2 separate regions of the Homo sapiens genome follow, and region 1 is linked to region 2. Evidence: fine-mapped QTL for protein levels in blood plasma. A gene starts in region 2. The other region holds a variant in brackets. All regions are shown on one strand. Distances are between the middles of the regions.

What was found. A credible set is the group of variants that fine-mapping cannot tell apart. PIP is the posterior inclusion probability: the model's chance that the variant is causal. Sun 2018 read protein levels with aptamers (SomaScan).
Region 1: its variant is the best candidate, but not a certain one, in a credible set for the plasma level of the FSTL4 protein (Sun 2018, PIP 0.59).

Annotation. Positions count from the first base shown.
Region 1 is chr5:133,318,333-133,323,843 of GRCh38, forward strand. All of the region lies in intron 4 of FSTL4 (follistatin like 4), which reads right to left. Among named protein-coding and RNA genes, the nearest start is that of FSTL4-AS1, 65 kb to the left of the region's middle. RefSeq lists enhancers at 673-1,190, 1,191-1,707. The variant T/C (reference allele first, on the strand shown) is at 3,159.
Region 2 is chr5:133,610,249-133,615,248 of GRCh38, forward strand. FSTL4 (follistatin like 4) reads right to left here and starts at 2,293. Exons shown (of 16, transcript NM_015082.2): 1 at 2,077-2,293. RefSeq lists a silencer at 975-1,024.

The sequences.
Region 1 (5,511 bases), 290 kb before region 2:
GTGGCTTTGTGCCCCTACAAAACTTGATGGGTTTTTCCTTTTTCTGGGCCTGGATAAGGATAAGTTTTGGGGAAGAGGAGGAATAGTTTTGCCTGAGTCTAGCTCCTCACTCCCTGAAAGAGGCTGAAATTTTGTCCTGGCAAATAGACCAGAAGTGGGGGTACAGAATGAAAGTGGAGGTGGGGCCAGCTGCTGGGGTAAATGGAGATGGATGTGTGCCTGTGTGGAGGGTCTGCAGGAGCCAGCATTTCTGCAGCCCCCAGGACTTCCTGGAGTGGGGGGCATTTATACCCAGATACTGAAAAATTGATGTACACAGCAGGTGGATATGGTGTCAGGAAGAGGCTGTACTCAGAAACACCGGTGGACAATCAGGCTCCGAAGAACATGCTGCAGCAGGGCCACCTGAAGGTGAGGACAGGCTGGGTCAAAAGGGCAGGATGCCCCATCCTTGCAGATCCCCCCAACCTTCCTCCTGGACCTTGGTGGGGCGTAAACCACTTCTGAGCTGCCTGCTGCCCTGGGCAAGATTCCTTTCTGGGAGCCTCTTATTTCGTCTCAGGACCCCAGTGGCCAGGCTGGCCTAAGCATGGAGAGCGCCCTGGGAGTTCTTGGGGTCACCAGCTGGCAAACCCATTTCTCAAGTCTGTAGAGCTACACGGACTGGCGTCCCCCTGTGAGCAGGGGTCTGCAGCTGGACAACACCTCCAACACTGGCAGGTGGGGGAAACCATCCAGGTGGGTCTTGCTGGGATGGAAGTGGGGTGCTGCAGCATCCTCCCCAGGCTCGGCCCCACCTCACATCCTCACAGCTGCCTGTGAGCGCAGACTTCTGGCTGCTTCACCCTGGCAACTGCCCAACAGACACCTTCTGGTCAGGAAGGTATGTGCAGGTCTAGAAGTCAATCATCTGGGGGAAAGGGGTGGGCCCTCCAGGTCTCCAGCATCAGCTCCCTGAGCCCACGGTCCCACCCCCTGCTAGGGCCCACACTGTCCAGGCCACTCCCATCCTTTTACCAGTATTTATTTACATACTGTGTGCCCGATGCTGGGCAGCCTCCAGTCCTGGGCACTGTGGGTGCCTGTGGTGGGAGGCCAAGGGAGGGATGTTCAGGATGAGACCTGTAGGAGGAGGAGTTGTGGGAGGAAGCAGAGGGAAGAGCAGGCCAGGAGCAGGACTGCGCGTGCAGGAGCCATGGTGGGGCACGTCTGGAGACTGGTGAAAGCTGGTGTGGCTGGGCTAGAGGGGCTGAGTCAGGTGGAGAGTGAAACAAGACAGGCAGGAGAGGGCAGTGGGACAACCCAGGCAGAGCCTCCAAGGCCTTGGGGAAGTGTGTGGCACCGTACATCATGCTGTTCAAAACTTCCTTCGTCATTTCTTCCCTTTACTGAGGGCACTCCATGCCTGGGCCAAGCTTGCCACTGGGGTCCTGAGATGAACCAAGGGATTCCAGGAACAGAATCTTAAATCCTTCTTTACCCCAGGAGCAACTGTGCTTTAATGAGTTGCAAGAGAGAACTTTGCCCAAACTTAAATCATGAAGTCATTTGTCCGAAATTACTGAGCTCCTCTGGTGCCCGACAGCACTGGGGAAGGGCCATGGACCCTGGAGGAAAGGCAGCCTGATGCTCAGAGCTCTGCTTCTGTGCAGATGATCACTCGAGATCCCAAAGTCCAAACTCGCTTTTTGGGAAGGCTTTTGAGCCTTCATCTCCAAGGGCTGCCCTCTTGGTGGCTCCCTGCCTTCACTCCCTGCCTTTGTCATCCGAATTCCACAGGGCTTGAGGTGGAGTGGGGGAGGGAAAACTTCCTTCCTTGCCTTCTTCCAGCCCCCAGAGGCAGATGCCCCAAAGCTGCAGCCTCCAGCTCAGTCTCCCTGGATAGATTTCCTCCTTCACAGCTGGCCTTGGCTTCCAGGATAGATATTTTCCTAGCAAGGTGTGTCAAAGTCATAGGTTACCAAATTCCAGTTTTATTTTTACATTCCTGCCCCCTGCTGGTTTCACTGTGGGGTCAGATAGGAGTGACTTAGCTGTGTGAAGCACTGGGCATTTTGGACACCACCGGACATGTCTTCAGCTAAAGGCTCCCTCCCCTCTTCCAGCTTCAAACATTTGTCTAATTCTAGAAGAAATACATGCCCATCAGAGAACCACTTGGAAAGTGCAAATAAAAATAAAGAAAAAGAAAATAAATCATCCCGAAATCCACCTCCCAGATGCAGGTGCTGTCAACACACTGCTGGCCAGATGTGAAGCTGGGCCCTCTCCATGAGTGACACTGAGCCCATTATTGAAATGAGCTCTTTCACGTAGTCCAGCCCTCGTCTGCTGTGCGGGCTCCGAGACCTGTTTTCTGATCTTCCTCCTATTCTTCTCAAATTCCAATCATTGGCTGGGCGTGGTGGCTCACGCCTGTAATCCCAGCACTTTGGGAGGCCGAGGCGGGCGGATCACGAGGTCAGGAGATTGAGACCATCCTGGCTAACACGGTGAAACCCCGTCTCTACCAAAAATACAAAAAATTAGCCAGGCATGGTGGCGGGCGCCTGTGGTCCCAGCTACTCGGGAGGCTGAGGCAGGAGAATGGTATGAACCCGGGAGGCACAGCTTGCAGTGAGCCGAGATCACGCCACTGCACTCCAGCCTGGGTGACAGAGCGAGACTCCGTCTCAAAAAAAAAAAAAAAAAAAAATTCCAATCATTTTGGGCAAGAAAGTGTCAACACCCAAGGTTCATGTCTTTCTTATCTTCACCCCAGTCAGCCCTGCCCACCTGCCCAGCAATTCCACACAGGTGACTACAAGAGAGGTGGGGGGTATGGGGGGACCAAGGGGACTTCAGCAGCACTGATCACTGGGCATGCTCCTGCCCAGGGGCCTGGCATTGACTATCCCCCTGGCTGGAGTGCTATTCACCCAAATCTCCACCTGGTGTATTCATCTTGGCCTCTGCTTAAACATCACCTGATGTAAGCTGGCACCCCTTACCTTCATCACTCTCCGTGCCCTGACACTGTGTGTGTTGGGCCTGGCTCCCAGGTAGGGAGGGAATCAGATCTCTCCGGACAGGGGCAGGGTCCAGTCTTAGCCTTAGCCTTGATCCACAGGATACTTTACTCCTTCGGAGGGAAGGTCCCTGGGGTGTGTGGCAGAGGC[T/C]TGGGGACCACCCCACTCCTCCCTGGTGCCCCTGTGGGTGATGGTCAAGATGATGTTGAGAATGATAGTGGCAGGCCGGGCGCGGTGGCTCACGCCTATAATCCTAGCACTTTGGGAGGCCGAGGCAGGTGGATTACCTGAGGTCAGGAGTTCGAGAGAATGGTTCGAGAGAATGCCATAAGGAGCCCTGAGCTGGGGCCCGGATCCCATTGCCAGGGCCTCTCTAACTCAGCCTGGGATGGGGAGACTCAGAATACAGTTGAACTTCAGCATTGATTAATCCGGAGGCATGACTCTTCCAGAGAAAAGGTGGGATGCTTGCATATAACCTTGACGTCCATGCCTTGAATGAGGCTCAGCAGGGGCTGCCAGGTTGGGACCCGCAGGGGACCTGCTTCATGAGTGGGCAGGACCGCCGTGATTTGGACTGCACAAGTTTCTGCCCACATGTTTGGAAAGTCATTTCAGTGTTTTCTCTGAGTCTTGCTGGTTTCCAGGTAAAGAGAACTTTGTGTTGTTCTAAATAAGGGGATTTTGTCTTTGCCTTTGTGGTAACCTTGGCTAAGTCAAGCCTTACAGTGAGGTTTGGAGAATTTCAGGGAAGCCCCCTCCATAGCTGGAAATTCCCTATGCTCTGAACACAGCTGCGCTTTCTCATGCTGCCCCACCCCCTTCCTGTCTTCAGGCCCAATCCACCTCGTCTGTAGGAAGCTTGTCCACTTACACACACACACCCACACACACACACACCCCCACACCCACCCACACCCACCCACACCCACACACCCACACACACACACACCCCCACACACACCCACACCCACACACCCACACACACCCACACGGGACTGCCTTCTCCCTCAGCTTTCCTTTCTGCCTGCTATGAAATCCTTTCTGAGTGAGGCTTGCCCCAGCCTTAGTTTGGGCTCCCCCAAAGCAGTCCCTGAGATGAGGATCTAGGGGCAAGCAGCATATTTGAAGATGATCCCAAGAAGTGCTGGAAGGAACAGGAAGTAGACTGGGAAGGGAGAAAAGCCAACAAAGGGTTCACTCATGAGTGGGTTGCCGCCGTGGGCAATGGGGGTTCAATCCCATGGGGTCCTCAGAGGGACTGTGTAGAACACACCGCAGAATTGCTTCACTGAGGTGGGAGGGAGCCAGGATATTTTTCTACTGACTTCCATCCCTATTAGCTGAGGTTGCTCTTGGAGGAATTCACCACCTCCAGCTAGCAGTTCTGGACCTCCCAAATGAGGACTGAGTCCACGCCTGAGACCGGAAAATGTCCTCAGGCTGAAGCTGCAGGTGCCTGGGATTGGATGCTCTTGGCAAGTGTTATGGGGAATCGTCCATCCAAGCTGCACATCACCTCTGGGGTTGACTGAGGGAAGCTGGATGGGCGGCTTTCAGCATCTGCTATGTCCCCTTAATGGGATTACATGTTCTGAGCAGGCAGGAGTTGAAGTGGACAGCTCCCCATGCAGCATTACAGTATGAAATGCTTGTTGAATGAGAGGACCAGAGTCCTGTGGCTCCAGGGCATTTTCATGAAGCTGGAGCCAGGGTGATGGGCTCACCCTATAACAACCTTGTCTAAGGTCTTCAGGGGGACACAGACTTCATCTTAGGCTGCCGTGTCTACCTGATATTAACACTGCTAATGACAGTCACCACAAGGTCAGACAGAACACTGGGTGGAGGATCAGGAGACCACCTGACTTCAGCTGTGAGACCTTAGGAAAGGCATTCACTCCCCTGCCCTTCCTACTCCTATTCCCTATCTTCACATGGGGATAATAATAGCTTCTTACTGCCTTCCAGGGTCATAGCATACAAGGAAATGTGAGGACTTAGCAAGTGGTTGGCGAGGCCTGGGGTCTTCTCTTGGTGAGATGGGCTCAAAGCCCCAAGGGAGGGGTATGGCTCATTTGTCTTTGTCCCCTTTACTGTGGGGCCTGGGACAGGTTGGCAACTAAATCAGTGCTCATGGCTAAACAGAAGACAGAAGATGTCCTGATCCTCTCCCTCCCTCCTGACCGCCAGTGCACATGCCCCATCTGGGGCTTCTTGGGGAGAGAGGCTGCATGTCCTGGTAAGCCTGACACTGACAGCGTCATTGGCAGGCTCTGTGAAGGGCTCAGCCACCTTCCTGCCAGCCTGGGTGCCCTCCATGCCACAGGGCTGGCCTGGCCAGCCCCTGGCCCTGGCCTCAGGCTCCTTGCCAGCACATGCGTGGGGCTCCTCCTGCTCCCAGACCAGGCCTGCTTTGGCAGATAAAATATTGATCAGCTTGCCGAGGAGCCCAGAGTGTGATCCTATTTTCATGTCAGAACTTGGTAATGAACTACATTTA
Region 2 (5,000 bases):
GAAAAACAAGCTGGCCTTTTCCAGAAGAAAAAGAGCTTTCCTAGAATCAACAAAAATTGAGGATGATCATAAAAGTCTAAGAGAGAAAAAAGCACTAGGACAACTCTAACGAGCAATTTAAATACATTACATCAAAGTGGACTATTTTCTTATGTGAACTTTGGCTCAGTCTGAAGTCTTTGGAGAGGGTGGTGCCTTTTTTTCCTAGGATGGGAGGGAAAAAGCGAACATTTAGCAGAGTATGGCAGAAATGGTCTAGTGATGCTGCAGTGCCTCCTTCTCACAACGCTAAGATGGGAAGCAGACACGTGCCCTGTAGGGCATCTGCTCGTATGTCCGGCTTGAGCTCCTGCCTGAGAGTTGCTGTGGCTCTGGAGTCTCAGAAGCTGCATCACTCACACCTCCGACCATTCCCTTCCCAGGTGGACCCCCCGCCAACCAGACCCAGAGTCTGTCCTGGGGGCCAGAGGGGCAGGCACAGAAACTGGCGCCTGGCTCCCAGGATTAAGAAGACACTATTAAAAAGCATCGCTGGTTTCCCCTAAATTTGGCAGTAGGAAAATAACTTAGGACTTTCAAGAAGAGTCCTAGTCGCTCACTGATCCGTCTTTTCCCCTCACAGATTGTGACACAGGCCCATTCCCGGTGAACATTTTGGCTGGCAGTTACTTCACCACCTATTGAAATTCTGTTTACGTTTGGCCCAGAGAACCTGGACGGATGTTTGTATCTCGGGGGCCCCATCTAGTACAATTCCTGGTGCACAGGCTTGCAACAAATTTACGAAGGTAACAGACCAAGCTGCCGGCGCTGTTTTTCACTGGAGGAAAGCTCGGCGGAAGCGACACCTAGAGGGGAGCGGCGGGCTGTGGCCGCGCCATTCATCAGTGTCGGCGGCCCGCGGCCGCGAGCGAGGGCTGCTGGACAGCGCCCCGGCACCCGCTCTCGAGCCGCGACACCGACCTCGCCGGGCCCGCCCCGCTGACCCGCGCACTCCTAGTGCACTTGCCGCGCCGCGCGGAGGCTCGCCGCGCTCTGGAAAACAAGAAACCCCACTGCCTCGGCGGCTTTCCGCTCCCGCAAGAGTTGCGGGCACAAAGTCCTCAGGTGGCAGGCCTGGGGTTGGCGCCGCTTTGTCGGCTGCAGGGAGCCCCAAAGACTAGCGTCAGCTCGTCCCCAAACTCGAGGCGACAGGCGCCGAAAGCAGAGTGCTGTGCCTGCCTCGTCCAGGTCCCTCCTGAAACTCAGAACTCGTCTTTGTTTTGCGGGCGCAAAGAGGGCGGAGATCATCCACAGTGCAAGCTCTCTTAGGACCAAGCCCCCAGCCCGAACGCTGAACGCCCCCAACACACTGCTCCCTAGACACGTTCAAGCGGGTACCCCGGGCCGCTCACTCTGGACCGCGGCCGGCTACGCACAAGCAGCGCCGCAGGCTGCCTGGAGTCGGGTCGTGCCCTGATTCCTTCCTCCCCAGCCTCACATGCGGCGGACCCCGGGGAAGCCAGGGCCAGGCGAAGCGCAGCGGGCCCTTTGGGCTGCAGCGAGGAGACGCAAGTTTCCCCGCAAAGCCGCGGGGAGGAGGTGCTGAGAATGCCTGCCCGGCGCCCCAACCCGGAGCCAAGGGCACCGGGCCCGGGCCGAGGGGCCGCGCTCGCCTGGCTCCGCCGGGGCCGCTCGGGGTCCTGAACCCAAGAACGGCGCCTGCAGGATTTCGGAGCCGGGCGCGAGCTGCGGGCTCGGCCCGAGCGCTTCTGCGTGGCGCCCCGCGTGCCAACCGGGTCACTCCGGTCCCCACCGTAGACCCCGGCCACGAGCCTCGGCGTCCCAGCCTCTCCTCGAGTCCTGGCCTTGGCCGGGGTAGCCCTGCCGAGCCCTGGCCCAGCGGTCCCTTCCCCGCGGGCAAACTTGGCTTTCCCGGCGCGGGCAGTAAGGACAAGCAAGCGCCCGCGCCGGGCCCTGCAGCAAGATGCGGGGCCGCGGGCGCCAGGACCCCAGTGGGGTGCAGCGGGACCGGCTGGTGGCGGCGCCAGCGACATGGCACCCTCCCCGCGCCCGCTGGGAGCTGCGCCCGCGTACCTGAGACGGCCGGGGCCGAGGGGAAGACCAGGTGGCCGGACTTGGGCGGGAGGGAGGGAGCACCCCGTGGCGGCGGCGGCGACCCCGCCCCGCGTCCTTCGGCTGGTTTCTCGGGCTGTCGGCGGGTCCCGGGCTCGCTGGAGGCTGTTGAGGCTCCAGCTCCCTGAGCCGCCGCTGCCCGCTGCTGTGCCACCGCCGCCGCGGCTGCCCTATTTCTGCCGCCGGGACCGGAGCCCGTGACGTCACCCTCTGGGCCCCGCCTGCCCAATCGCCGCCACCTGTGCGCGCCGCCCGCCCGCCAGCCGGTCAGACCCGCGCGGCGGCCACGGCAGGTGCGCGGAGCAGGCGGGCGCGCACGCGGGGCGCGATGACTCCGGAGCGCTGGGGCCATCTAGGGCCCGGAGGGAGGAGGGCCAGCGTAGCGCTCCTGCCTCTGGCTAGCGTGGAGCTCGGCAAGTGACAGCCCCTCTTCACCTCTGCTCTCCTCCAGGCTCCTTTCCGGGCCAGGTTCCCCAAAGCTGTGCTCTCCAGGCGCACAGGGGGTCTCTGAATCCGCGGCCATTGCTCGTGGAGTCCAGGCGGGCCGGTACACCACAGCAGGAGAGCTGTCCCTGGGGACAAAGTGGGTGAAATCCCCCGCCGTTGAGACCCAACAACCTGGGAAACAGCAAAGGTTTTCTCTTTTCTGAATCTTCCCTCTTCCAACTACAGAATCTTAAGACATTCAGGGCATACAGGGGCAATCCCAAGTGACATTTGCCTACCTGACCTAGCTGGGCCCAGAGGGTCCCTTCTCCCTTAGAACAGGATATTTCCCCATCCTGATCCCATCCCCAAGCCTGGGGCTCCCAAACTTTTCTGAATCCCTCTTTAACATCAGCAGCTTTTGAGATCAGTCTTCCTTCCCGAATGAACTGGAAACACCTTTGTAACAACTAGGGGCCCATAAATGGTCATACGTAGCCTCAGTCTGGCAGGAAACTTAGGAGGGAGCCCCTACCCAGGCCAGGCTGATGGCCAGGAGACTTTCTGAGGGCCTGCCTCCTGCTCTGGCTGCGTGGGCACCAGGGGCCTTCCTGGCTTAGGTGAACAGTGTTCTGTCCATGCCTCTGTAATCTCTCCTGGCCGGGGGGAGGTGACAGAGGGGATTTTTCTGAGGATGAAGTTAGTTAAATATAAGGAAAAGGGGAAGAATAATGGAAGGCTGACCTGAAGAAAGAGATATTACGTTTGTTTTTTCCTTCCACAGATTTTCCTGCCGCTGAACCCCTCCAATGCAGCAGGCACTGTGCTATTAATAGTTGCTAGAGATACAGCAGTGAATGGGCCAGCGCGGTCTTGGCATCACACAGTTTTGGTCTGGGGTCCAGCTCTCCCTCTATCACTGCCAAGCTATGTAATGCAGAGCCAATCGTATCTCTACTGTAGGTATCAGTTTCCCCACTTGTAAAATGAGGGGTTGGACAAAACCTGGTTGACTTCCCATGTGGATACCATGATTTTTACTCAGAAGGATAAAGGCTACTACATCCTCAGTGACCCTGGGCCCTAGCCAGTGTGATCCTCTCTCAGATTTGACTATGAATCTTTGCCAAGGCCACCATGACTGAACTTCTGGGGCTGGCTAGGGGCCAGATTCTCCATGGCAGGACTGGGGAAGGGATGGCACTTTTCATCTTGGGAAACAGAAAAGAGAAAATGAGTATAAAAGGAAGCAGGGAAGTTTGGAAATGTGCTGTGCCTCCCTCTGAAATGTAATTCTAAGTCTGTGGTCAGGAACGTACACCATGGCTTAGAGGCTGGATTCGGCTCTCCTCTAAGACATGAGGTATTTGGAAAAGCAGATTTCTATTCTCAGCTCTGATCACAAAGTCCCTGAGTCAACCTAGTGGCCTTATTACATAATCAAAGCAGGACTTTGTGTATTTTTTGTTTTTTAGTAACTCAAGGTCATATGTAAATCAGGGTCTATAGGTTGACCAAGATCAGAAATAGCTCTGTTTAATGCAGTGAACAGGCACTGAACTTCTACACGCTTCCCAAAGAAGGAGAAGAAGGTAGTTGCTGCAAACCAGATGTATGGAATATTCCTTAGAGAGAATGCTAACATCTGAAGTGAGCTGTTTAACTACTGTGCATAAAATAAGAGTGAAATTAAAAGTCACCTCGGAATGAGAAAGGTGAAGTGTGAATGACAAAATAAAACAAGGCTCCAGGGAAGCAGCATCAGATGCCAGTAACCTTGACACCTCTTTGAATTGCTCTGTGCTTTTACCTCTCAGTGTAATTTTTTGTTTAATAGTACACCCCAAATTGGAAAATAGGCTAGATTTCACACTGAGAATTTCAAAATTTGCCTGAAACCCTGTTTCAGAACTTGCAAGCATACTGATTCTCAATAGCCAACTAGGATTCTTAGGGGAAATAATGGTTAAGTTTTGAACTTCATGTAATTCAATAAGCTTGGAATAGGGGAGCTAAAAGGAAACATAAATTCCAGTTACTGCCCCCCAGCCCCACTCTGTTTTTGGTGAGTGGTTCAGCCAGAGACACACATAAAAACATTATTAATATACTTTTACAAGATCAAAAAGTTTAAGCAACCCAAATATTTTTTTACGTTGCTGGTTTAAAATCTTTTTTCTATTTCTAATCCTTACCAAAAACACAACAATATAATGAAAAACTACTGCCAAATGATGTGTGTCTCTTAGGACATTTCAGATTACACCTGCATATCAGGATACTCAGAGATGACACATAGCCATGGGAATCAGGAGGAAGCAAGGCACTTTCTCCAGATCCAACCAAAAGTATCTGCATCACTAACTGTGGGTCAGCTTACCCTTGGGAGTCCCCACTAGGCTGGTCAAACAGTGCCTAGAAATACCCATTAGAAGCCAGACTGGGAAGTCATGTGAGAA